Linked DNA regions of Homo sapiens. The protein of the gene in region 3 purifies or fractionates together with the protein of the main gene of each other region. This does not show direct contact. Each region holds a gene or a part of one and is shown on either strand. Other genes may lie near its edges.

What was found.
Region 1: the proteins of GAR1 (region 3) and FARP2 purify together in Homo sapiens (affinity purification with mass spectrometry; one large-scale study listed by BioGRID and IntAct). This does not show direct contact.
Region 2: the proteins of GAR1 (region 3) and ESF1 purify together in Homo sapiens (affinity purification with mass spectrometry; one large-scale study listed by BioGRID and IntAct). This does not show direct contact.
Region 4: the proteins of GAR1 (region 3) and FARP1 purify together in Homo sapiens (affinity purification with mass spectrometry; 2 studies listed by BioGRID and IntAct, with this or other methods). This does not show direct contact.
Region 5: the proteins of GAR1 (region 3) and GEMIN5 purify together in Homo sapiens (affinity purification with mass spectrometry; 4 studies listed by BioGRID and IntAct, with this or other methods). This does not show direct contact.
Region 6: the proteins of GAR1 (region 3) and GSTA1 purify together in Homo sapiens (affinity purification with mass spectrometry; 2 studies listed by BioGRID and IntAct, with this or other methods). This does not show direct contact.
Region 7: the proteins of GAR1 (region 3) and SHQ1 purify together in Homo sapiens (affinity purification with mass spectrometry; 3 studies listed by BioGRID and IntAct, with this or other methods). This does not show direct contact.

What each region holds. Positions count from the first base shown.
Region 1 is NC_000002.12:241,429,285-241,432,784, reverse strand, and holds part of FARP2 (FERM, ARHGEF and pleckstrin domain-containing protein 2), read right to left. Parts: intron 1,107-3,500; coding exon 1,011-1,106; intron 1-1,010. UniProt on the Homo sapiens protein: Functions as a guanine nucleotide exchange factor that activates RAC1. May have relatively low activity. Plays a role in the response to class 3 semaphorins and remodeling of the actin cytoskeleton.
Region 2 is NC_000020.11:13,757,420-13,760,919, forward strand, and holds part of ESF1 (ESF1 homolog), read right to left. Parts: intron 2,435-3,500; coding exon 2,273-2,434; intron 1-2,272. UniProt on the Homo sapiens protein: May constitute a novel regulatory system for basal transcription. Negatively regulates ABT1.
Region 3 is NC_000004.12:109,822,000-109,825,237, reverse strand, and holds the end of GAR1 (H/ACA ribonucleoprotein complex subunit 1), read right to left. Parts: intron 2,892-3,238; coding exon 2,750-2,891; intron 1,274-2,749; coding exon 1,205-1,273; intron 821-1,204; coding exon 807-820; 3' UTR 501-806; downstream 1-500. UniProt on the Homo sapiens protein: Required for ribosome biogenesis and telomere maintenance. Part of the H/ACA small nucleolar ribonucleoprotein (H/ACA snoRNP) complex, which catalyzes pseudouridylation of rRNA.
Region 4 is NC_000013.11:98,146,094-98,149,593, forward strand, and holds part of FARP1 (FERM, ARHGEF and pleckstrin domain-containing protein 1), read left to right. Parts: intron 1-3,500. UniProt on the Homo sapiens protein: Functions as a guanine nucleotide exchange factor for RAC1. May play a role in semaphorin signaling.
Region 5 is NC_000005.10:154,886,911-154,890,061, reverse strand, and holds the end of GEMIN5 (gem-associated protein 5), read left to right. Parts: intron 1-644; coding exon 645-741; intron 742-1,684; coding exon 1,685-1,852; 3' UTR 1,853-2,651; downstream 2,652-3,151. UniProt on the Homo sapiens protein: The SMN complex catalyzes the assembly of small nuclear ribonucleoproteins (snRNPs), the building blocks of the spliceosome, and thereby plays an important role in the splicing of cellular pre-mRNAs.
Region 6 is NC_000006.12:52,801,017-52,804,976, reverse strand, and holds the start of GSTA1 (glutathione S-transferase A1), read left to right. Parts: upstream 1-1,160; 5' UTR 1,161-1,192; intron 1,193-3,960. UniProt on the Homo sapiens protein: Glutathione S-transferase that catalyzes the nucleophilic attack of the sulfur atom of glutathione on the electrophilic groups of a wide range of exogenous and endogenous compounds.
Region 7 is NC_000003.12:72,810,446-72,813,945, forward strand, and holds part of SHQ1 (protein SHQ1 homolog), read right to left. Parts: exon of another isoform or gene 2,350-3,500; coding exon 2,226-2,349; intron 1-2,225. UniProt on the Homo sapiens protein: Required for the quantitative accumulation of H/ACA ribonucleoproteins (RNPs), including telomerase, probably through the stabilization of DKC1, from the time of its synthesis until its association with NOP10, NHP2, and NAF1 at the nascent H/ACA RNA.

The DNA.
Region 1 (3,500 bases), on a different chromosome or scaffold from region 3:
CTTTTGTACAACGGAAATGCAGCAACTGGAACATCTTTGAATAACTGGAAGTACTGGATTTTACCAAATACACTGCACAGGCATTTATTTTTTCCATTTTTACTCATTTCAGTAAATTCATATGTAATTATTATTTTATTAATGAGCAGTCAGTAAAGAAGGGAATATTTACTCCCTGATAATCAAGGCTTCTTCAATTAGAGCTATTCAAAGATCAATTTCTGAATGAAGGACACAAGAGAACACTGGGGATACTCCTCAGTTCATTCTGAAGCTCTCAGCTGCTGTAGGGCTTCAGATCATTTTGAGCACTTTGTTCTTCAGCTTCCTTACCTAGAGAACAAAGAGGCTGCAATAACCATGGTTCTTAGCAACCCCTAGGAGCTTGTCAGATGTGCACCTTCTTGGGTTCATCCCAGACCCGCTGAAGCTGAAACCCTGGGGTTTTGAGCCAGCAACACGTGAGTGACAAAGTTCCTGGGGGAGGTAAGTGTGAGACCAGCTAGGCAGACTGCCCTCAGCCCCTCCAGACCTAAGTCCCGAATCCTGTCCTTGAGTTCTTGTGTGCATTATGCTGAAATGATTTACAAAGTAATTATGTTTTAGCAGAATAAATTATGAGTTAAAAAATGGTCAAAATAGGCTGGGCATGGTGGCTCACGCCTGTAATCCCAGCACTTTGTGAGCCTGTAATCCCAGCACTTTGGGAGGCCAAGGCGGGTGGATCACCTAAGGTCAGGAGTTCGAGACCAGCCTGAACAACATGGAGAAACCCTGTCTCTACAAAAATACAAAATTAGCCAGGTGTGGTGGCGCATGCCTGTAATCCCAGCTACTTGGGAGGCTGAGGCAGGAGAATCGCTTGAACCCGGGAGGCAGAGGGTTGCGGTGAGCCGAGATCATGCCATTGCACTCCAGCCTGGGCAACAAGAGCGAAACTCCGTCTCAAAAAAATAAATAAATAAATAAATAAAATAAAATAAAAATAAAAAGTTGAAAATAATACTTACATGAACCTCTGGATGAAGTTTGATAAGAAATCTTTTCCTCTTGAAGCTTAGTTTACGGACCTTGGACCAGTTGAAAGTGTTGATTTTGGTGGTGCCCTGAAATGCAAGAGACAGACAGATTACATTTGTATCTGGCACATAACCCCTTTCTCATGAAATAGGGAATGCTTAAATTACATCCTTGCCAACACAGCACTCTACTTGGCATTTTACCATTATATCTGAGATAGCTGACTTAAAATGTCAATAACTAAACATATTAATCTATCTGTTCTAGAAAGATAATTTAATTTTTTTTTGAGATGGAGTCTTGCTCTGTTGCCCAGGCTAGAGTGCAGTGGTACCAATCTCCGCTCACTGCAGCCTCAAACTCCTGGGCTCAAGCAATCATCCTGCCTCAGCCTCTGGAGCAGCTGGGACTACAGACACCAGACACCACTCTTGCCTAATTTTCTATTTTTAATTTTTTTTGTAGAGATGAGGTCTTGCTCTGTTGCCCAGGCTGGTCTCAAACTCGAGGCACATCTGGAACACAAGGACACTGAAAGGTTCAAAGAGATGGAAAAAGATGTACTTAACAACTGACCAAAAGAAAGCTGCTGGAGCAATATTATCATCAGACACAGTGCATGAGAAAGAGGGCTTACATCATCTAAAAGCAATTCACCAGGAAGATACACTGGGACTTGTATCTCTCCTCATATTGTTTCAAATATTTATAGGAAATGGAAAATTAGAAGTGGAAAGATTTGCACTTTTTTTCTTTTTTTTTTTTGAGACAGAGTCTCACTCTATCACCTAGGCTGGAGTGCAGTGGTACAATCTCCATTCGCTGTAACCTCCGCCTCCTGGGTTCAAGCAGTTCTCCTGCCTCAGCCTCCTGAGTAGCTGGGACTACAGGTGTGTGCCACCACACCTAATTTTTGTATTTTTAGTAGAGATGGGGTTTCACCATGTTGGCCAGGCTGCTCTTGAACTCCTGACCTCAGGTGATTAGTCCACCTTGCCTCCCAAAGTGCTGGGATTACAGGCATGACCCACTGTGCCTGGCTAATTTTAATTTCTTTGATAAGGTTTTATTGCAAAATTTTAAAATCAATGTTAATATACATTTTTTGAAGTTCACTCCTGCAAGGAGGGTGGTCTGGAAGGGGCAGTGATAGTGGCCAGGCAGGGCAGGGAGTAGAGTCAGGTTTCTCACTGAAGCTAGAACACAGTGCTAGAGTGTAACAGGAGCGAATGATGGGAATTCCTGGTTTCAGCAGATACAGACACAGATATAGAGGTAAATATAGATATATGAGGTGAGTGGGTATATGTACATGTGTGTAGCATTGTCTGTTGAGAGGGCCAGAAGTGGTGATACCCCACAAAGCAATGGGCACACTGAGTGCATGGATCTTGGTCTCTAAATACCAGTCTTCACTAAAACGGCTGGGCTCTGTGGGGAAATGGCTGACTCCACAGTGAAGCAGGCAAAGTACAAAACAAGCCTGGCATGTCTTATTCTGTAAGAAAGCAAAGAAGTGTTCATAAAATGAAAGGACATGTGAGAAGGACACAAGAGGCAGCTTGAAGAGTCTCCCTTGGGCCAAATGTGGGAAAGTTAAAGATAAAAATAAATAATGAAACCAACAGATTATCAAGTATCAGATTTGAATCTATGAATCCACAGTGACATAAACTAAATAAATGGAGAGAAAACTCTTCCTTCCAGTAGTAGGAAGAATGGGATTTAAAGAGTCATCATTGGGCAACCATCATAGTGATCTAACTAGAAGATGAGTGTGATGAGGTACAAGATATTTACTTAGTCTCAAAGTATCGCTCCACAAAATACTTAGTAACAAAGGACAAAAAGTAACCTTTCTTTCCTTAAGAGATAAGGAGTCTCAAACTCCTGGGCTTAAGCAATCATCCTGTCTCAGCCTCTGGAGCAGCTGGGAATACAGGCACCTGATACCAATCCTGGCTAATTTTCTATTTTTAATTTTTTCTTGTTTAACGAGTTAAAGGCAGATGGGCATCTCAGGTAAAGGCCAGCAGGACCTTTTGTAGAGATGGGGTCTTGCTATGTTGCCCAGGCTGGTCTCAAACACCTGGCCTCAAGTGATCCTCCTGCTTCAGCCTCTGTTGGGACTATAGGCATGAGCCACTACCTAGTCAAAAACAACTTTGTATACAGAAAAGCTGGCAAACATCATCTTGACCAAGTGATCAATGTTACCACCACCACCACCAATGGGACAGATGGACCCTATGTGCCACATGAATCAGGACGCATCATCACTCTGGGAGTTTCTCACCTAGGCAGTGAGCCCAGGGTCTGATCCTGGGGAAGCACTGCACAATCCCATATCATAAACATTCTACAAAATGACTGCCCTGTAATCTTCCAAAATGTCAAGGTCATGAAAACCAAGGAAAGGAGGAAGAATGTTCCAGATTGCAGAGACCAGAGAGACATAATGCCTGGGTACAGCATTTGCT
Region 2 (3,500 bases), on a different chromosome or scaffold from region 3:
CAGGGTCTCATTCTGTTGCCTAGGCTGGAGTGCAGTGGCATGATCACAGCTAACTGCAGCCTCAACCTCCTTGAGCTCAGGTGATCCTACCACCTCAGCCTCCCCAGTAGCTGGGACTACAGGCGTGTGCCACCATGCCCAGCTAATTTTTGTATTTTTTTGTAGAGATGGAACAGTTTTGCCATGCTACTCGGGCTGGTCTCGAACATCTGAGGCTCAAGTAATCCACCCACCTTGGCCTCTGAAAGTGTTGGGATTACAGGTGTGAGCCCCTGTGCCCGGTTTCATAATTATGTTAATAAAGACACAATCTAGATGTGGTCCACTTAGTGTGGGAACCTGTATCATATATCTGTACCTTACAACTGGCATTATATATTTCTGAAATATTTGCTATAAAACACCTCAATCCAGTTTATTTTAGATCTGCTTTCTCAGACAACTGAACACTTCAATTTAAAAATGTTCATATTAAAATATATTCAATAAGCTCATTCTAAGATTAGAATTAAACTACAATATATTCAACTTAAAAGACAGAATTCAACATTTCTTAGAATCATAAAGTCAAGGGACTCAAGTAAAATATTTCTTAACAGACATCTCTGAGTAGCATAATTATGTAGCCTTATGGTGGAGATTTACTGACACAGAGAGCTCAACCCCTTAAAGCAGCCTTCAGTTCTTCTGCGAGACAATTCTAATAATATAGAGAATTCCTCTTTATATTATTACGTTAAAATCTACCTTCCTTCAACTTTTATCCACTGGCAGTACTGCTAACCTGTGAGGTAATAAAAGAGATTAAGTCTTCATTTACATATTCTGCAAGTATTTAAAAATAGCTGTTAAAATCACTTTTTAGACTTTTCCTCTCCAGGCCAAATCAATTGAGTTCTCCCAACCACTTGTCATATGATACACCAGTAAACTTCATTCGTTCTTACCACCACTTCCTGCAAAAGCCAAACATTTAAAACAAATGGGTTGCAACACAGCACTTCATTCCTGTAGGAATATGCAGCAGACCATCCTAGCAAATTTACTACAATAGCCAGTGTCCATCCTAGCAAATTTACTACAATAGCCAGTCAATCCTCAAATATCAAAATACCCTATTTTTTTCCCAAATAAAAACCCACGCAAACATATGTTTTATTCCCAATACAAAAGCACGCTACTTATAAAAATGGAATTGGTAACAGAACACCTTTAAGTTTTAAGCAATGGTATTCCTACAACTGGTTAGTACTCTTTCTCCTAGTGACTAATATAGGCTAAAGAACTGAACCCTTATCCAAAAATATATCTGGTTTTAAAAGTTATACACATATATAATATAAACAGCAGTAATCTATAAAAACAGTATTGACTGCAGAAGTCCCTGATGATTTGCCCAACAATGTTGAAAAAAATGTGTACAGTAGTCCCCCATTATCTGAGGAGGATACATTCCAGGACCCACAGTGAATGTCTGAAATCATGGATAGTACTGAATCCTATAGCTAGTATGTTTTTTCCTATACATCTACAGCTATGATAAAGTTTAACTTATAAATTAGGCACAGTAAGAGATTAACAACACCAACAATAAAACAGAATAATTACACTGTAATAAAAGTTATATGAATATAATCTCTCTTCCTCTTTCTCTTTCAAAGTATCTTATTGTACTATACTGGGTAACAAACTGCAGAAAGTGAAACCATGAAAAAGGGGCAACTGCTGTTTACTACAGAATGATCCCATTTATCCCAGCTTTTATCTTTGTTTAGCTTTGACATGATTTTAATTAGTTTTGTACTAGTACTATTTTACTCTACTATGCTATATTTCTTTGACTATTCGCAGCAAGATTGAAAATCGAAGACTATGTAATACATATTTTGTGTTAGTGAAACCTCATGAATTAAGGACTAGTGGGGGTTATGGAAGAAAAGGTCACTTAAGAATTAAACATTCAAAAGAAGTGTAATAACTTTAGAACACGTGGTGCCTGGATTCAAGTTTCTATATCTTGAGAATACAGGCTCAAACCTAGGAAAAGCTACTCTGATAAATGGACAGGAAAAATTTATAGTTAGTAAATCAAAGAAACCAATTAAAAATAAGTTGGTAAGAGTCTAAAATGCTAGTCATTAAGTTAGTTAAATGGTGTATGCAAATATGATGTTAAGGTCCTCACCAAAACATTTCCGGCTCCTTCATATTTAAAAGGTACTCAACATGCTGAAATTCGAAAAAGAGAAAACATTTAGTATCTAATTCTTACCTGGAACCCATTTAATTTCCATTTCCATATCATTTTCTTTGCCTTTCTTTTCTTTTTCTTGAATAACCTGCAAGAGCTGCCTGTATTTAGCAATTTGTTCTTCATCATCCTTCTGACTTTTCTTTGTTTTCCCATCTTCTTCTACATTGACTCCATCATCACCTAATGAAAAAAAAATTCACTTAATACACAGAAACAATTCATTTCTAACTCGTGTTCAGATCTTATGGTCACTCTCTTTTAAAAGATGCTGTTAGACCACAGGATATCAAAATCAGACTTAAATTTCTGAATATTAAATGAAAGACTTAGGGTCTCATGTAGAATAAAAATCAGTTGCAATATAAATTTGCACTGTCATAGCAGTATGCTTGGGAATGCCCCTTTTTATTAAAATTTATATTGGATAATAATTCTGCAGTTACATAACATCTTTGGGCTTCTTTTTCCTATAAGCTGCAAGATAATGAAGATGGCATTTTCACCCTCTCTGGGAAGTGAGGAGCGTCTCTGCCTGGCCGCCCATCGTCTGGGATGTGAGGAGCCCCTCTGCCTGGCTGCCCAGTCTGGAAAGTGAGGAGCGTCTCTGCCCGGCCGTCATCCTATCTAGGAAGTGAGGAGCGCCTCTTCCCGGCCGCCATCCCATCTAGGAAGTGAGGAGCATCTCTGCCCGGCCGCCCATCGTCTGAGATGTGGGGAGCGCCTCTGCCCTGCCGCCCCGTCTGGGGTGTGAGGAGCGCCTCTGCCCGGCCGCGACCCCGTCTGGGAGGTGAGGAGCGTCTCTGCCCGGCCGCCCCATCTGAGAAGTGAGGAGACCCTCCACCCGGCAGCCACCCCGTCTGAGAAGTGAGGAGCCCCTCCGCCCGGCAGCCGCCCCATCTGGGAAGTGAGGAGCCCCTCCGCCCGGCAGCCACCCCGTCTGGGAAGTGAGGAGCGTCTCCGCCCGGCAGCCGCCCTGTCCGGGAGGGAGGCGGGGGGTCAGCCCCTGCCAGGCCAGCCGCCCCGTCTGGGAGGGAGGCGGGGGGTCAGCCCCCACCGGCCAGCCGCCCCGTCCGGGAGGGAGGTGGGGGGGTCAGCCCCCGCCCGGCCAGCCACCCCGTCTGGGAGGTGAGGGGTGCCTCTGCCCGGCCGCCCCTACTGGGAAGTGAGGAGCCCCTCTTCCCCGGCCACCACCCCGTCTGGGAGGTGTACCCAACAGCTCATTGAGAATGGGCCATGATGACAATGG
Region 3 (3,238 bases):
GTAGTATACTACACGAATATTTACGTGTAGTAAATAACACCTTAAACTTTTAGAGTCCCTTTAAAAAAGTAAAAATAAAATAACATTCAGTAAAACTTCTAATATTCCATTTATGTTGGATGAGAAAAATTAACTTTAGAAATTTCTTGCTATAGTTTTCACTTCAACAGAGCTACTGCATCTTTAATACATTACTAATATGGAAAATTTTTAAATCAATTATTAATTGCAATTAGAGAAACAGCTTAACTGATTTATGTATTAAAATACAAAAGGCAAATACAAAGCTATCTTCTCATACATAAAAGGCCAGGGTTTTGAAAGGCAGTGTCAACTTGTAAATTATCTTAAAGTACTGCTACAGTAGTCTATTTTTTAAAAGATCAGTAATATAAATAAACAAATCCTTTTTTCGATCTGCAATTCACTGGGTTTAAGCTTTAGTTATTCCTTTCTACTTTAAAAAATGGGTTTCATTTAATAAACACACTCTAAATAACTTAAGGGAATAAAACACTTTATTTTAAAAATTCAAATATGCTTCAAATGAAAACTCCTATCCATTTATTGAGCACCCACAGAGTGCCAGGCACTGTACAAAACATTAGAAAGACTTGTTCATGCTCTTTTAGAGCAAAATTCACTATTCCGTTGCACTTTGCATGATGCTGACATTTTAGATCCATTGTCATAAAATGACCAAGATCTTCAAGACTTGTTCAAGAAACAAGTTTCCAATCCATAGTAGAAACAGATCATGCAGGTTAATGCAGAAGTCAACTGGTGATGTCTGTCAACTGTTTCACTTAATGTCCTCTCCCTGATTAAGAGAAAATTAAAGTATTAAGGGCACAGAAAATGGATTTTTAATAGTATTATAACCTAAATCTCAAGTTTAAAATCAGCATTAGTTCCAATAATGTTTAGCAAACATACTTTACCAAATTTAACTGTCATTCATATTACACCTTTATTTTTCAAATTAATAATAAAGCAAAACAAATTAGAATTAGGTGAAAAAATTGAAAAGAAAAGGCAAAAAAAAAGTGATATAAAATGAAACCACAAATTAGGCTAAGCAAAGAACACCATGGTGTTCTATATACTTGCTGGCAGAGAAAATTAAACTTAAGTAAAAACAGAAAATGCCAGATAATATCAATTTTAAACATTAAGCAATTTAAAGACTTTTTAAAATACTCACCTCTGAAACCACCACCTCTTCCTCCTCTGAAGCCCCCACCTCCACCTCCTCTTCCACCTCTAAAACCACCTAAAAAACATTTATTAAATAATAACGCAAAGTATTTAAATAACAATAGAATATAATAATCATTAAGTTATTAACTGTATAACCTCTTATATTGATAAGCCTAAAAAGATCAATACAATAACTATAATTATAATGAATAAATATAGATTCACATATTTTATCAGGGAAAAAATTTTAGAAGATAAAAATGGAGAAACTGTAGTAGTTTACCAACTGGGCAACAGGCTAAAACCCCAGATTATTCCATTTCAATAAATTAGAAAAACTTGTTAAAGTATGATTCAGTCTTGTTAAATGTATGACTATTGCCTTAGCTCTTGCTTATGATAAATACTTTTTTGATTCAACTAAGGATAGTTTGATGGAACTGTGGCTTTTTATCCTAACAACAAAGGGTGGCAGATATGGGTGCTTTTGCTCTGGGGGTAAGATAATAAATATGATAGTTAAGATTAACTGAGCTACATAAGTAAGATTTTAAAAAAATAAGACAGCTGTGAATTTTTTGAAATGTTAAATGATACTCAACATAACATGAGAATAGGGGAATCTCTGTTCATCAAATTCTCAAGAAGGTACCCCTGAGAATTTTCCTACCTATATGGACACAAAAAAATACCTTTATGGAGTGAAATGGTGATTAAATTGAGAAACGCCAAAAGTGAGGCGTTCCTTCTCTTTTTCTGATCCAGTAACAAAAGCTGTCCAAGCCCAACTTTCAGCTCCTCTCCCTTTCCACTTTGGCTCTGCCCATCACCCCATCACTCGCCCTTCTCCTACTCACAGGGCATGGCAGCCCCACTCCCCAGAGCCCTGCTCATCACCTAGCTGTCCATAATGATGAATGTGCCCAAACCTTAGGGGAAAGGCATACATCAAAACAGGCATACATCAAAATACCCCAAAACCTTGGGGGAAAGGCATACATCACAACAGTGAGATCACAGTAATGAATTTATTAGTAATAGTTCTTGACATGACATCAGAAGATATGCATTTTAATTCTTGGGTCTGCCAATTGTTTGATTGGGGCAAATTAATTTCTGTAAGTCTCCGTTTCCTCATTCATAAAATAAGGATATCATCTATCTCAAAAGGTTTCGCTGAGTATTAAAAATATATACATGGAAATTAAAAGAATGTATGACCAGCTTTCAGCATGCAGTCTACACTCAATAATATTAACTAAGGAATTAAAATTAAGATAATCTTACGGTTTATTAAAATGTCCAAGAAAACATGAATAACCCAAAGAAATGAAGTCCCTCAAAAGTATACTTTAGTAGATTTTCTTCTTTTTAAGTAAGTTGTTGAAATGAAGCATTATTATTATGGACAATCTGCCAATATTGGAAAGCAGCTTTAATAAAAAGAACCATAAGGGAGGTTTGCTATGTACAAAGCTAAATTGTATTGTATGAATTAGCTGTGAAAGTCACAGTTAATTTCATTAGAAATTTTCCCCAAGTAACTTACCGCCTCTGCCACCACCTCTGCCACCTCCTCCTCTTCCTCCTCCTCGGCCTCCCCTGCCACCACCTCTTGGAGGTCCTTTCTCACCTGGAGGTCGAGGTAAAAACCTCTGCAGTGGCAGCAGCTTATATGGGTCTATATAAAACTGGAAACATAATAGAAGCAATTAGTATACAACTTGGGGGACAGTATAATATAATCATTAAGAAGCTACATGATAGAGTCAAAACTGCCTGGGTTCAAACCCCAATCCTACCACTTTCTACTACATATCCCTGGGTAGAGACTTAATTTCTTACTAACTTAGGTTTCTTTTTTTTTTTTTTTTTTTTTTTTACCTTAAGTTCTGGGATACATGTGCAGAACGTGCAGGTTTGTTACATAGGTACACATGTGCCATGGTGGTTTGCTGCACCTATCAACCCATCATCTAGGTTTTAAGCCCCGTATGCATCGGGTATTTGCCCTATTGCTCTCCCTCCCCTTCCCCCC
Region 4 (3,500 bases), on a different chromosome or scaffold from region 3:
TCCTGGACGGGATTAGAGAATACTAGAGAAAGGATAAAAGGCTGGTTTCTGCAGGCAGAATATGCTTAGGAAAAATGGCATTGTGATTTTCCCAGAGGATAAGAGAAATTCTGTGGATTTGTAAGTACTGTACTTGCCTGATTTTTTTTTTTGAGATGGAGTTTTGCTCTTGTTTCCCAGGCTGGAGTGCAATGGCGCAATCTCGGCTCACTGAAACCTCTGCCTCCCAGGTTCAAGCGATTCTCCTGCCTCAGCCTCCCCAGTAGCTGGGATTACAGGCATTTGCCGCCATGCCCAACTAATTTTCTGTTTTTAGTAGAGACGGGGTTTCTCCATGTTGGTCAGGCTGGTCTTGAACTCCTGACCTCAGGTGATTTGCCCGCTTCGGCCTCTCAAAGTGCTGGGATTACAGGCGTGAGTCACAGAGCCTGGCCTTGCCTGATGTTTTGATAGCATGGTGGACTGGACATTTTAAAGAAGCCCTTTGTAACTGGCCTTGCTTATTGCAGATAACTGCTTAGTGTTTTTGAGAAATGCACTTTCCTCACCAGCTGAAGGTGCTACAGATAAGAGGGGCAGGTATAGTCCTGTAATGCAGGTGCTAAAGTCTTTCTACTTTGGAAGGACAGGCATTCCCTGTATTGGTTACCGTTTGCCTGGGAAGGGAGGCTGTGGGGTTTTAGGCTCTCGTGGCAGTCTCTCTCCTGTTGTTTGGTGCTTTTGATTGAAAGGAGCCTCTCCAAGCCTGGCTATTGAATGGGAAGCAGCGGATCAACTTCTTTTCTTGTCTTTTAGTGTCAGAGTTTATTCTGTGGTGGTACTGGGTCACAGTCCTTTCTCTCTGTTTCACCCATGGCAACTTAGGTAGGCTGTTACCTCCTTAACCACTTCCACATGGCCAGGAAGATCAGAGCCAAACGGTTTTCATTCAAATTACTTGAAATACTGATTTCTCCAGTCCTGTTCTGCCAAATGCAGCCTTTGTTTTCAATCAAGAAGCCCCCAGAAAACGTGTATTTAAAACTGGCAAAACTTTTTATAGGATGCCCTTGCCCTGGTTTGAATTAGTTAAAAATGTTTGGCCAAGTGGATACTTTGAGCAAAAGTGGATAATGGATACATTACTAAAATATCATGCTCGAAGCTTTTGATACTAATCCGGCGAGACTGAAACTGAGGCATGCTCAGTGCTGCCTGCAAACTGTTAACTCAGATTTTAAGTTTTCTTAGTTTAATGTGGGATGGAAATTATGAACTTCAAGACTTGCAATTAATGTGGGAATTCATCATTTACACTGAATGAATTTCATATGTAAAACTGTCATATTTGTTCACACATTAAAAAAAAGAAGAGCCTCAGGCCACACTAGACTGCCTTTAACTCTCAATTATGATAATAACCTCTGACCACAAGAGTAACTTCACTTTATGTGCAGACTTTTGACGAAATGCTTTGCATAAATTTATTATCAATTAGAAGACTTAAAAATCCAGTATTATGATGACTTTCAGTTTTTGTTCTTGTTCATTCAGGATCTAGTATAGTATCTGAATATAGCAAACCCTTGGTAAATTATTGTGTTCTGTTTTCTTTTTGAAAAAAACTCGAGGCTGGAGTGCAGTGGTGATCATGGCTCATTGCAGCCTTGACCTCTTGGGCTCAAGCAATCCTTTCATCTCAGTCTCCCGAGTAGCTGTGACTACAGACACATGCCATCACGCCCAGCTAATTTTTTCTTTAAAAAAATTTTTCTTAGAGAGTCTCACCGCTATGTTGCCCAGTCTGGTAAATCCTTGTTGAATGAATAATAAATCCAGTTTTTACCATCCCTTCAAATTAGTCTTTAGGGTTTTTAAAGGAAACTTGTTATTAGAATTGATAGATTGCAGTTCTGGCAGTTTGATATTTGATTTTGTTTTCATTTCATTCTAATTTAGCAATTGAATCCTTAAAGCTAAGTCAGATTGTAAAAAGACAGAGGTTCCTTTTCAAAAAAAAAGACAATAAGGTGCGGTGGCTCACGCCTGTAACCCCAGCACTTAGGGAGGCCAAGGCGGGCGAATCATCTGAGGTCAGGAGTTCAAGACCAGCCTGACCAACATGGAGAAACCCCGTCTCTACTAAAAATACAAAATTAGCCAGGCGTGGTGGCGCGTGACTGTAATCCCAGCTACTCGGGAGGCTGAGGCAGGAGAATCGCTGGAACCCGGGAGGCGGAGGTTGTGGTGAGCTGAGATTACGCCATTGTACTCCAGCCTGGGCAACAAAAGTGAAACTCCGTTTCAAGAAAACACAAGACAATAAAAGCATGAAGAAGAAAATAAAACAAACTTGAAATCCTGCCACCTGTTACTGACTCCTACCTTAGCATTTTGGGATCTGTTCTTTTATATAGCCTTCTCATTTCTTAACCTGCGCCAAATTTGACATTCTAATTGTTTTATATGGTACTTGTCTGTAAATTTAATGTGCTCACCATTCCTTTTTGTACTTTGAAGCTTGCTTCTGGGATACATTTTCCTTCTTCCTGAGACACATCTTCTAGAAATTCTGTTAGCATCTGTTGGTGGTAACTTCAGTTTCTGCATGTCTTAGATACCTTTGTTCTTGAATGGTAAGTTTATCTGGGTGTGCAATTCTGTATTGTTCCTGTATTAATCAGCTGTGTTCTGGTCCCATTGCTGTTGCTGTCTAATTATTTGTAACTAGTCTGCCTTTTCTCTCTGGCTACTTTTAAGATGCTTTGGTGTTCTGCAGTCTGGCTATGACATGTCTAGGTATTTCTTCTCTCTTTTACTTTTTTTTTTTTGAGTCAGGTTCTCACTCCCATTGCCCAGGCTGGAGTGCGGTGGCATGATCTCGGCTCACTGCAGCCTCAACTTCCTGGGCTCAAGTGATCCTCTCACGTCGGCCTCCCAAGTAGCTGGAACTACAGGCAAGCACCACCACACTTGGCTCATTTTTTGTATTTTTACTAGAGATGGGGTTTTGCCATGTTGCCCAGGCTAGTCTTGAACTGCTGGGCTCAAGTGATCCTCCTGCCTCGGCCTCCCAAAGTGCTGGGATTACTGGCATGAACTGCCATGCCTGGCTCTCCTTTAGTTTTATTCCTCTCTCTCTTCTTCCCTCTTCTCCTCTCCCTCTCTTCTGTTCCTCTTCCCTGCTCCCTTGCTACTGTCTTTCCCATCCTCTTTATTAGTTTATTTTCTGTTGCTCAGCAGTATTTCCGTGGCTGGATATGCTATGACTTGCGTATCCACTCCCCTTTGGCCATTCAAGTTGTTTTCAGTGTTGGCTATCATGAATACAGCTGCTGTGAACATTTGTGAACAAATCTTTGTGTAGAGATAGGTTTTTATTTTTCCTCCTGGGTCTTTAAGTGTGTGCCTAACTTTATAATAAGCTATTTGTAAGAAAGCGTTGGCACCATTTTATGTTACCATCAGTGATGTATGAGACTTCTAGTTACTCCAATCTTGATCAACACTTGAAACAGTCT
Region 5 (3,151 bases), on a different chromosome or scaffold from region 3:
CCACTGTGGAAAACAGTACAGCAGCACTTCCTCCAGAAATGTAAAATAGAATGACCATAGGATCCAGCACTTCCACATCTGGGTATACACCCAAAAGAATTGAAAGCAGGGTCTGAAATATGTGCACACCTGTGTTCATGGCAGCATTATTCATAATACCCAAAACACGGGAGCAACCTAAGTATCCACTGACAGATGAATGGATAAGCAAAATGTGCCATATCCATACAATGGAATGTCATTCAGCCTTACGAAGGGAGGACATCATGCTGAGTGAAATAAGCCAGTCACAAAAAGACATATACTATATGACTCCACTTATATGAACTACTCAAAATAGTTAAATTTATAGAGACAGAAAGTAGAATAATGTTGACAGGGGCTAAGGGAAGCAGAATGAGAAGTTAATGTTTAATGGGTATAAGATTTCAGTTTTACAAAATGACAAGAGTTTTTGGAAATGGGTGGTGGGGATGTTTTTCACCACATTATGAATTTATTTAAAATCACTGAACTATGTATTTTTAAATGGCTAAGATGGTAAGCTTTATGTTATATACATTTTACCACAGTAAAATAACAATGGGAGAAAAATGTTACCCAGGGCAAGACATACAATTTACACCTTTTATTTTTTTCACTAGTAAAGAAGAAAAAAATGAGCCACTTTCTCTGCCTGAGTTAACCAAAAGGCTTACCGAGGCAAATCAGAGAATGGCGAAATTTCCTGAGAGCATTAAGGTAAGAGTTAAAGCAGTTCATTTGGTAAAGCATCACTTTTTGTGTTATCACTTGACTATACCACATTCTTATAAAGGTCAGCTACCTCTCTGTTCAGTTTCTAAAATCTCTACCCATTCATATGTGCTTAAGAATTTAGAATCCAGGCTGGGCGTGGTGGCTCACGCCTGTAATCCCAGCGCTTTGGGAGGCTGAGGCTGGCGGATCATGAGGTCAGGAGATCAAGACCATCCTGGCTAACATGGTGAAACCCCGTCTCTACTAAAAATACAAAATATTAGCCGGGCGTGGGGGCAGGTGCCTGTAGTCCCAGTTACTCGGGAGGCTGAGGCAGGAGAATAGCATGGAGGCAGGAGAATGGCGTGAACTCAGGAGGCGGAGCTTGCAGTGAGCCAAGATCACGCCACTGCACTCCAGCCTGGGCAACAGAGCGAGACTCTGTCTCAAAAAAAAAACAAAACAAAAAAAAAGAATTTAGAATCCAATTACTTTGGTTAGCTAGAATGTTTTGTGAGACTAGAATTATCGATCACACAAGTAATTTTATACCTCAATCTTCAGAGAAACCAAATAGATTTAATAGGTAAGAAGTAAAATTTAAATTGGTGCCATGTATTAGATAGCTTACAGATGGACAGGTCTTTTTGGCTGTGGGCCCAAATATTAATAGAAGCACCATTTTTAAGGGTGGATTTGCATAGGGCTGTAGAAAGAGATTGTGCCATTGAGAAGGACATCGCAGTAGCCATCCTAGTTTTGAGTGTCATTTCTCCTTGGAGTAACTGTTGAAGAGAAAGACAGGACATTGCCTTAGGAGACAGCTGGCTCAGCTGTGTCCAAGAAGTGTCTATAGATGAACCTGAGTGACTGGTGCCTTCTGTGCAGGTGTTTGTGGCTCTTCTGCAAATGCTTCCTTATTCATCCTCATGTCATCGTCTTTCAGGCCTGGCCCTTCCCAGATGTGCTGGAGTGCTGCCTCGTCCTGCTTCTCATCAGGTCCCACTTTCCTGGCTGTCTGGCCCAGGAAATGCAGCAGCAGGCCCAAGAGCTCCTTCAGAAATACGGCAACACGAAAACTTACAGAAGACACTGCCAGACCTTCTGTATGTGAATTTTCACACACCTTGAAGAAACTGCCAAATTGAAAATGTTTGACATCTTTCACCTCTGCAGTTATGCCTCACCAGACATTCACTCTGGTCCCTAGATGTTTTTGCAGTAATCCAAAAGAATACAAACAAGGATTAAGTTTGAATCAACCCTGCCTACCCATAGACAACGGTGGATCTGACTTTAGACTCAATTGTGGTCTCCTACTGGAGGGAAGATCATGAAAAGCCCACAGTAGTTATTCAGAACTAACACCTGCAGAGTGTTGGTCATCTCTACAGCCTTAGGCAGGTTTCACCCAAAGAGGAGAAACTTCTGTCGTCACCCAAAGTGTTACATGCTTAAAACACAAGCTACCTTTGTAAATACTTCATCTGATCAGAAGTGTGTCATGCTTGTTTGAGATGGAGTTGCTGCATTTTAGGACTATTGATACCTTTTTTTAATTGTTTTTATAATATTTAATTTGAAAGAGGAGACCCTTCTCTCTCTACTCTTTCATAGACTGAAGTTTGAATATGAAATAGGCCTTAACCATCATGTTGACTCTCCTGTCAGAATTTTAGGTTGGAAATTTGGTTTTATTCTTTCATGTAATTGCTTATTTGAACAGATCACTTACTAAAGCTTTAGAAGAAGTGATTCAAATGTGTGTTTTCCCTTCAGTTTTATAACAAATGGATTGATGGCAGTCAAATAGCTCAGGAATAAATTACTGTTTCAATGGTTCTTAAACTTTCTTGGATCATAGGATCCTTTTGAGAATCAGATTAAAGCCAAAGATACTCTTTGGAGAAAAATGCATATTCCTAATTTTGCATAGATGACCTTTGGATTATTGGACTCTGACTATTGGGACCCTAAATACTATTTAATTATAAATCTTTTTTTTCTCCTCCTTGGTTATTTAAACAGTTGAACAGTGTCAGGAACAGATGTTTCTGTAATGTCACAGTTGCTAGCATGGGAAAATCAGAGTCTGGCATGGGTGTAGGAAGGAACACTCCTTTCAGATAATTGAACTGTTTTCTCTAGGATTCATTGTGAAGGCTTTTCTGCTCACGTTTGTAGTTTATTTTTCAATTAATTCCTAGGATTGGAGCTGTTGGGACAGTGAGAATGAAATTCATTTACAGGAAGTCCCAGGAAGGAGAAAGTTTGAGGCAGTTTTCAAAGACGTGTATGTGCCTAGCATTAGAGTTTAATAAACTCACAAAGGGAAATACTGTAGAATTTAGATCCTCACAGTTCTTCATACAGTGAAGTGAACTTTAGGAAGACGATGCTTTGTTACCAGGGA
Region 6 (3,960 bases), on a different chromosome or scaffold from region 3:
GCCTTCCCTCAGTTCCTTCAGTGCCACTCAGGCCTGGCTGCGAAGATACAGATGGTATATGCGAATTACATATAAGTAACTATATGCAAAATTATTTTTCCCTGGTGTGTCATTGTGCCAGCGTGTTTGGATTAGAAGTGATTTCCAGGAATCCTTCCCTGCGTCTTCTAGCTTCTGGGGGCTCTTGGCCTTTCTGGACTTTCATGGATCATGACCACATCACTCTAATTTCTGCCTCTGTGTTCCAGCACCTCACCCCCTGTGTGTTGTGTCTTCTCTTCTCTCTGCTGTGAGGACAATTGTCATTGGATTTGGGGCCTATCCAGATATACCAAGATGATCTCATCTCAAATTCTTTTACTTCATTACATCTGCAAAGAGCCTTTTTCCAAATAAGATCAAGTTCACAGGATCTAGGGATTTCTATATGGACCTATCTTTCTTGGGGGCCAACATAACCCCCTACATGGTATAGGTGAAATAAGATTATTTGCAATTGATGAATCCAGGTGATGAATACTTTCAGATTTGTTATATTATGGGCAATTTGAGTGACGCAAAGAGGATAGCATATGCAAATAGGGTCTCTGGATTTGTCAGATAAAATACAGGATACCCACCTAAATGTGAATTTCAGATAAACAATAAATAATATTTCAGTATAATCTGGTTTCATACCGTGTTTGGAACATAGCTATAACTAAAAAATTGTTGATTGTTTGCCTGAAATTCACATTTACATGGATGTCCTATATTTTATTTGGCAACCCAGTAAGAAAACGGTGGCATCAGCTTGCCCTTCACAGACATCCTCTCCCAGCTATGCTCACAATAGAGATTTTTCAGTTGCCCTAGTCTTTGCACCCAACTCATGAAAAAAAGCATCTTTAAAAAGCCAGTTTCTGCTGACTTGCAAAAAGAGCAAAATCTCGGTGAAATGTATTGTGTAAACTTTGATTGCCAACCTTGAAAAGGAACACATTAACCAGTGTCTTCTGATAAGCAGATCACTTGCCTCATGTCTTAGAATCCAGTAGGTGGCCCCTTGGCCATGAAATGTGTGGGAGTGGCTTTTCCCTAACTTGACTCTTCTTTCAGTGGGAGAGAACTATTGAGAGGAACAAAGAGCTTATAAATACATTAGGACCTGGAATTCAGTTGTCGAGCCAGGACGGTGACAGCGTTTAACAAAGTAAGTACTGATCTTATAAATTTCTCTACATTGCCTCACACCCTCCTCTCTAGCCTCCTAGAAAAATATGCTAATATGTGTCCTTAGCACAAGGAAAAGTCTGTTTTTACTCATATTGTGCCGTCTTGGTGTGCTTGGGTGACAGTTCAAGAATTGTTTATTTCTTTTCTGTTGGATACATCTTTACAGAATTGTAAAAATGAAGAATTTAGAAAACCAGGGCTTCAGCATTTAATGGTATGGGAAACAATGACATGAAGAGAAAAAAGAAATGGTAGCATTTTAAACAATCTGAGAATAATCAGTGCTGGAAGAAGTGGCAATGTATGCAAAAATTTATTTCTCTGTGTAAGTAGTCAACACACAATTGTAAATTGTGACACTGTAATTCTATATTGGCTGTGAAAATACAAAACTCAGGTTTAGTATAATTAGAATAAATTAGTTTGAATGTCAGGAGAACTAGATTCTAGTTGAGCCTTTGCCACTAATTAGCTCAAAGACAAGTCATATTCTGTCTCTGGAGTTCTACCAACTCATGGCCAATATAGAGGATAGCTAAGAAAGAGGCTCCGACTGTTGCTGCCCTTTAAACTGTGTAATTCTTTGAATGGAGATCTGTCCTGCTCACTCTAGGATGTTTCTAGGCATCCCTGGCCTCTACCTATCTGATTTGTAACCCCCTTTCCCTCCCCGCAGATATGACAACCCAAAATGTCTCTAGACCTTGCTCAATGTCCTCTGGAGCAGAGGAGCAAAATCCCCCTGGTTGAGAACCATGGGACTACATGACCTCATGGGGCTAAGCAAGGCTGTGTTACTGATGTGCCCCACTGCTTGGACATTCACTGAAAATTTCCTGTTAATCCAGGTGGACTGATTAGTGAATATCAATATCTTCTGTACAGGAGCTAAAAAGGAAAGAGAGAGAGAAACAGAGAGCCATCATATGACAGATTTGATATAAGTCTGGATTCATATAAAATCTTATTCCTACTCGAGTTCTATGAACAAAATATAGAGAACCAGAGAAATGGATACAAGACAGATAATAGATGATGAAGAGACAGATTACAAAGAGATAGATACATAGAACGATTGATAGATAAAATAATACATACATGGATGGGTAGACAGAGATTATAAATAGATACATATACATAGATTGTTGGTCAGTAAAATAATTGATGGATAGATAGATCAAAGAAAGAGGATCCATGGGCTACTCAATATGTCCAGAGACTCACCCATCTTCCAAGCACTGGGACAAGAGCAAACACCCATTGCTGTGTTCCTACTATGAATTTTTTGTACATTATCTCATTTAACTTTCTCAACAACCCTCAAAAGTAGAAATAACTATCTCTATTCTAAGAAGAGAAAATTGAGGCTCAGAGATTAAACAACCTACTGCATTTATGAATCTCATAATGGAAGGAGTCATAGTTTATCTCATTCTCCCTTCTCTCTGATAAGAAACAGTGTCATTGGGACCACCTCAGAGATGTAAATGTAACTCCTTTAATTTACTCCTGGAATTATGAGAGCTTATATTCCTTTCAAAACAAGCCCATTTTTTAATTGATGTAAGTTAATTATTGATGTAAAGTAATTATACTAGTCCTCAACTCACTCTGATTTTTAGGTTGTCAAATCAGAGAAAGTCACAGTTTTATCAATTTTTTCTTCCAAGCAAGCCCCTGAAAAGTTGCTAACAGGAGGAACTCAGGAATTAGATGTTCCCCTCTCGTCCTCTCCTTCCAACATTTATTTGGCTAATATATATTTAATAGGAAAATACAAAACAACTTCTCAGACAGGAGCTGAGAGCCAGGTTATGAGGTGGAGTGGAAAAGCTCTGGACCTGCAATCAGAAGTTAAGGCTGACCCAACACTCACCAAGTGTGCAGCATGAGACAGGTGCTTTAGCTCTCTGAAACTCAGTGTGCCCATCTTTAATTTGGATAATAGGAGCCATTTCCCAGGGTTGTTGCGGAAGGTAAACACACTCCCTAGATATTGACTATGAATGAGGAGCATGTGTGTGTGACCCATGGCAAATCCTTGAGCTCTCTGGTTCTCATTTTCTGTTGACCCAACAAAGCTCAATGGTAACCTATGTCTCAGTCTTAGCCTGACCCTTGGAAACCTCACATTGAGAAAGTGATATGCTAGTTATCAGCAGGAGTGTTGTGATAAAATATTATGTAAGATAAAATTTCACTTCCTTTTGAAACATGATCCTCAATCAATGGCTAAGAGAGTTTAGTTTGGGGATTGGAATTACAACACTGTGAACTCTAGTCGATAACAATTAAACAAGCATACCCCATGCTTTCATCTGAACTTCACTCTCCCTTTCACTCTGTCAAATTATGCTATTTCCATTTCCCAAGTTACTTTAAATTGCTCCTGGAGTTATCATAGAAAGTACAATGTCAAAATATCTCATGACAAAACAGGTGAGTTGATTCAGTATGATTTCAAAGAATTCTTTACTTTCCAAAGGTTAATTATTGACTCCCATATTTTAAAATGAGACATTTAAAAGATTTTGATGCCTAATTTTAGTCATACATACCTTTTTAGAAATACATTAGTTGAGGCCGGGTGCAGTGGCTCACTCCTGTAATCCCAGCACTTCGGGAGGCTGAGGCGAGTGGATCACCTGAGGTCAGGCGTTCCAGACCAGACTGTCCAACATGCTGAAACCCTGTCTCCACTAAAAATACAAAATTATCCGGGTGTGGTGGCACATGCCTGTAATC
Region 7 (3,500 bases), on a different chromosome or scaffold from region 3:
TGAAATATTCTGTAGTTTCTGAAGCATTCCTACATTGGTTTTGAAAGCTCATTCCATTTAAGATCAATCCTTCTTTGGAGCCAGGGTTATTCATTACTTTCAACTATGGAACACTATACTGACCTTTATAATAAAAAGTGTGAACACTGACTGCATTTTGAATTATAAGTAGGCATGAATTCATTCTTGGAAAACACTAAATGCCAAACCAGAGCTACCTTTATTTAAATTATGGGGTGTTCAAACAAATGAGCCTCTTCAGCGGCAATAATGGCATCCCCGTGCCATCCACCTGTACAAAGACAGGTGACGATTCTCATCCAGAACATGTCATCTCTACAGCTTCTGGCACAAATTCTAGACAACCCAGCCCTCAGTTTTAGCACTAACTAGCCACAACCCAAATTAGTCACAGAACACACTGTACATGGTACATAGAGGGTTCAGGTTCATTTTTAGCAGAGGCCTCCAGTGTGTTACTTCAAGTTTTATGTTACTATCATAACACAGCTGATAAAACTATTTCTTGTCAGAGTGATAATGAATAAAAATTAAGTCTCAATTTCAATTCTGACCTACTAAAACTGGGTAATTGATTCCTGTGTAAGTCAAGGCAATCGAATTTATTTTTGGTTATGCAATCATAGTACTGATTACTTTTCCAATGAAAGTCAAAAGAACTAGATTACTTCCCAGAATAAAAAGTAACAAGCAATAGTCTGTATATGTGAGTGAGAGTGAGAGTGTGTGAGTGTGTGTGCAAACAGGCATGTGGAGGTTTTGCCAATTCTCCATCTGGAAGCCATGATATAACAGGATAATCGCAAACTGCATTCTCACTGGTTTAAGTCCATGAATAATGCCCAGATAATCTAGCATGACTTAAAAAAGAAATGAATTGTGACGTGTAACTGAGGCTCACACAGTCATTTATAGTAGATTGATTTTCCAAGGTACTTTTAGCAATTCAAAAAATATCTTAGATGGAAGGCAAGAAGAAATAACACATGAAAAAACAAAGCAGTTTGTTTCCCACTGTTAAGTTAAAGAAGATAGATTTCTCAATGATAGCTCTTTCATCCTATAATCAACAATCCTTCAAAATAAAATACAGCTAGTCTAAACCAACTGGATGAATAAAAAGGCATCTTTCATCTAACCATGATTCATTTTTACAATTACTGTCTACTTTAAAATAATCTATTTCAAACATGATTTTCTTCCCCCATCCCCACCACCAGGGCAAGAAGACTACAGGTTACACAGAAAGCGAAGTACACTTCCAGGTGAGACAAAACATTTGAGATGTGATTCTCTTCTTTAGGCCAGTGAAGTCACCTGGAGGTAGAAGGAAGAACTTCCTTTCTTTCCCCTTCTTATTCTGAAGTCTGAAAACCAAGCTCCCAGAAACACTTTTATCTAAGGGCAAAGGAATGATGAGTCTCCCCAGGGGGAGAATATAAGAAATGACCATAAAGTACTAAAAGTGACTTTTAAATAAATGTGCCAGAACTAATACATACAAATGGATGTTGCCCCCTTCAAAGTCATTATCTTGGAAATTATATACTTATTCTAATGATGATACTATGGGCACTTTGGAATTTGTTTCAGAGCCCAGAATTTTCCACATCCTTAAAGCTAACGAGTGTTTGTCTTTTCAGGTTGAATTTAGCAAGTCAAAAGTGCTCAGAGTAGCTGAGCTTTTTGTTGGAAAATCTTTCTTGACATGCCGAATCTAGGTTACATGTCCCCTCCTAAACGATCCCTGGACTTCTCCCAGCAGAGTACTTTTCACTCTCTTTGGAATTGCTAACTTACCCATCATCTGTCTGACAAAACTGTAAACTTCAACAGAGCAGGGAACTTTTCTGCCTTCTTTATTATTAGACCCACAGTCCCACCATAGAGCCTAGAAGATTATAGGCAGCCAAGAAATACTGAATGATGCAGCTATTATAATGTAAAACGGTTTGCAATACTATGTGTGCCTTCTCTGTTTACCTTCCTTACTCCTCTCGGAAAAGAGTCTTTATTATGCCTCTATGCAATTACTTATCTACATATGTCTTATACACAGGAATTCTATACTTTAAAAGTGGTTGGATTCATTTTTCATTACTTATTTATATACAGTAAAAAAGCAAAAATCATTATTATATCTTCACAGACTAAAAACTTACAACTTTTTCCCTCCCAAATTTGCAAGTACAGTAATATCTTACCCAGTTGCAATATCTTTATAGTGTCCCTGTAGGCCTTCATCACCAGCTTGAAATGGCGATAGAGTGGGTAACACAACACCCTTCTTCCAAAAGACACCATGATATCATGAACGTTAGTCCAAGTCTGTGAAGTGTCATTTTAATAAGCAGTCATTTCCACAAAATGTTACACAAACAAAAGTACACAATGAAATAGGAAGCTTTTCTCATTTAAAAGCTGCAAGTTCGGATCATTGTGAAGCCAAGTAGAAGAGAAACATAAAACCATGAAATAAGATTCTTTTTGTATACTTTACAATAAAACAGAATCTTAGTTTTTGTAATTTCTCACACTATCAATACATCACAAATGTCACAAGAAAGCTTTTAAATAAAGTCCTAAAGATTACAAATAAGAATCTAAAACACATGGCATTAACAAAATACAGATGCACATAAAGGACATTTTAATATAATTTACATTTCATGTTTTTGTCAGCTAAGGCTATTCAAGATGGCACAGATCAAAAATGTAGAACTCACCGGGAGTGGTGGCTCATGCCTGTAAAGCACTTTGGGACTCCAGGCGGGTGGATCACCTGAGGTCAGGAGTTCGAGACCTCCCTGGCCAACATGGCAAAACCCCGTCTCTACTAAAAATACAAAAATTAGCCAGGTGTGGTGACAGGCACCTGTAATCCCAGCTACTCAAGAGGGTGAAGCAGAGAATAGCTCGATCCTGGGAGGCAGAGGCTGCAGTGAGTCAAGATGGCGCTACTGCACTCCAGCCTGGACAATAGAGTGAGACTCCATCTCAAAAAAAAAAAAAAAAAAGGCCGGGTGCGGTGGCTCATGCCTGTGATCTCAGCACTTTGGGAGGCCGACGGGCGGACCACAAGGCCAGGAGATCGAGACCACCCTGGCTAACACGATGAAACCCCGTCTCTACTAAAACTACAAAATTAGCCGGGCGTGGTGGCAGGTGCCTGTAGTCCCAGCTACTCGGGAAGCTGAGGCAGGAGAATGGCGTGAACCCAGGAGGCGGAGCTTGCAGTGAGCCAAGATCGCGCCACTGCACTCCAGCCTAGGTGACAGAGCGAGACACCATCTCAAAAAAAAAAAAAAAAAAAAATACATAGAACTCTTTAGTAAAGTATGTTCAGTTTCCTCTCCTCTTTTTCTTTTTTTTTTTTTTTTTGCACTGGACATGGGTAATACAAGACATTTACTTGAGTAATTTGCTTTTGCTTATCAAACTGATTTCTAGGAAAAAAGGTGTTGTATCTTGAACGGTAT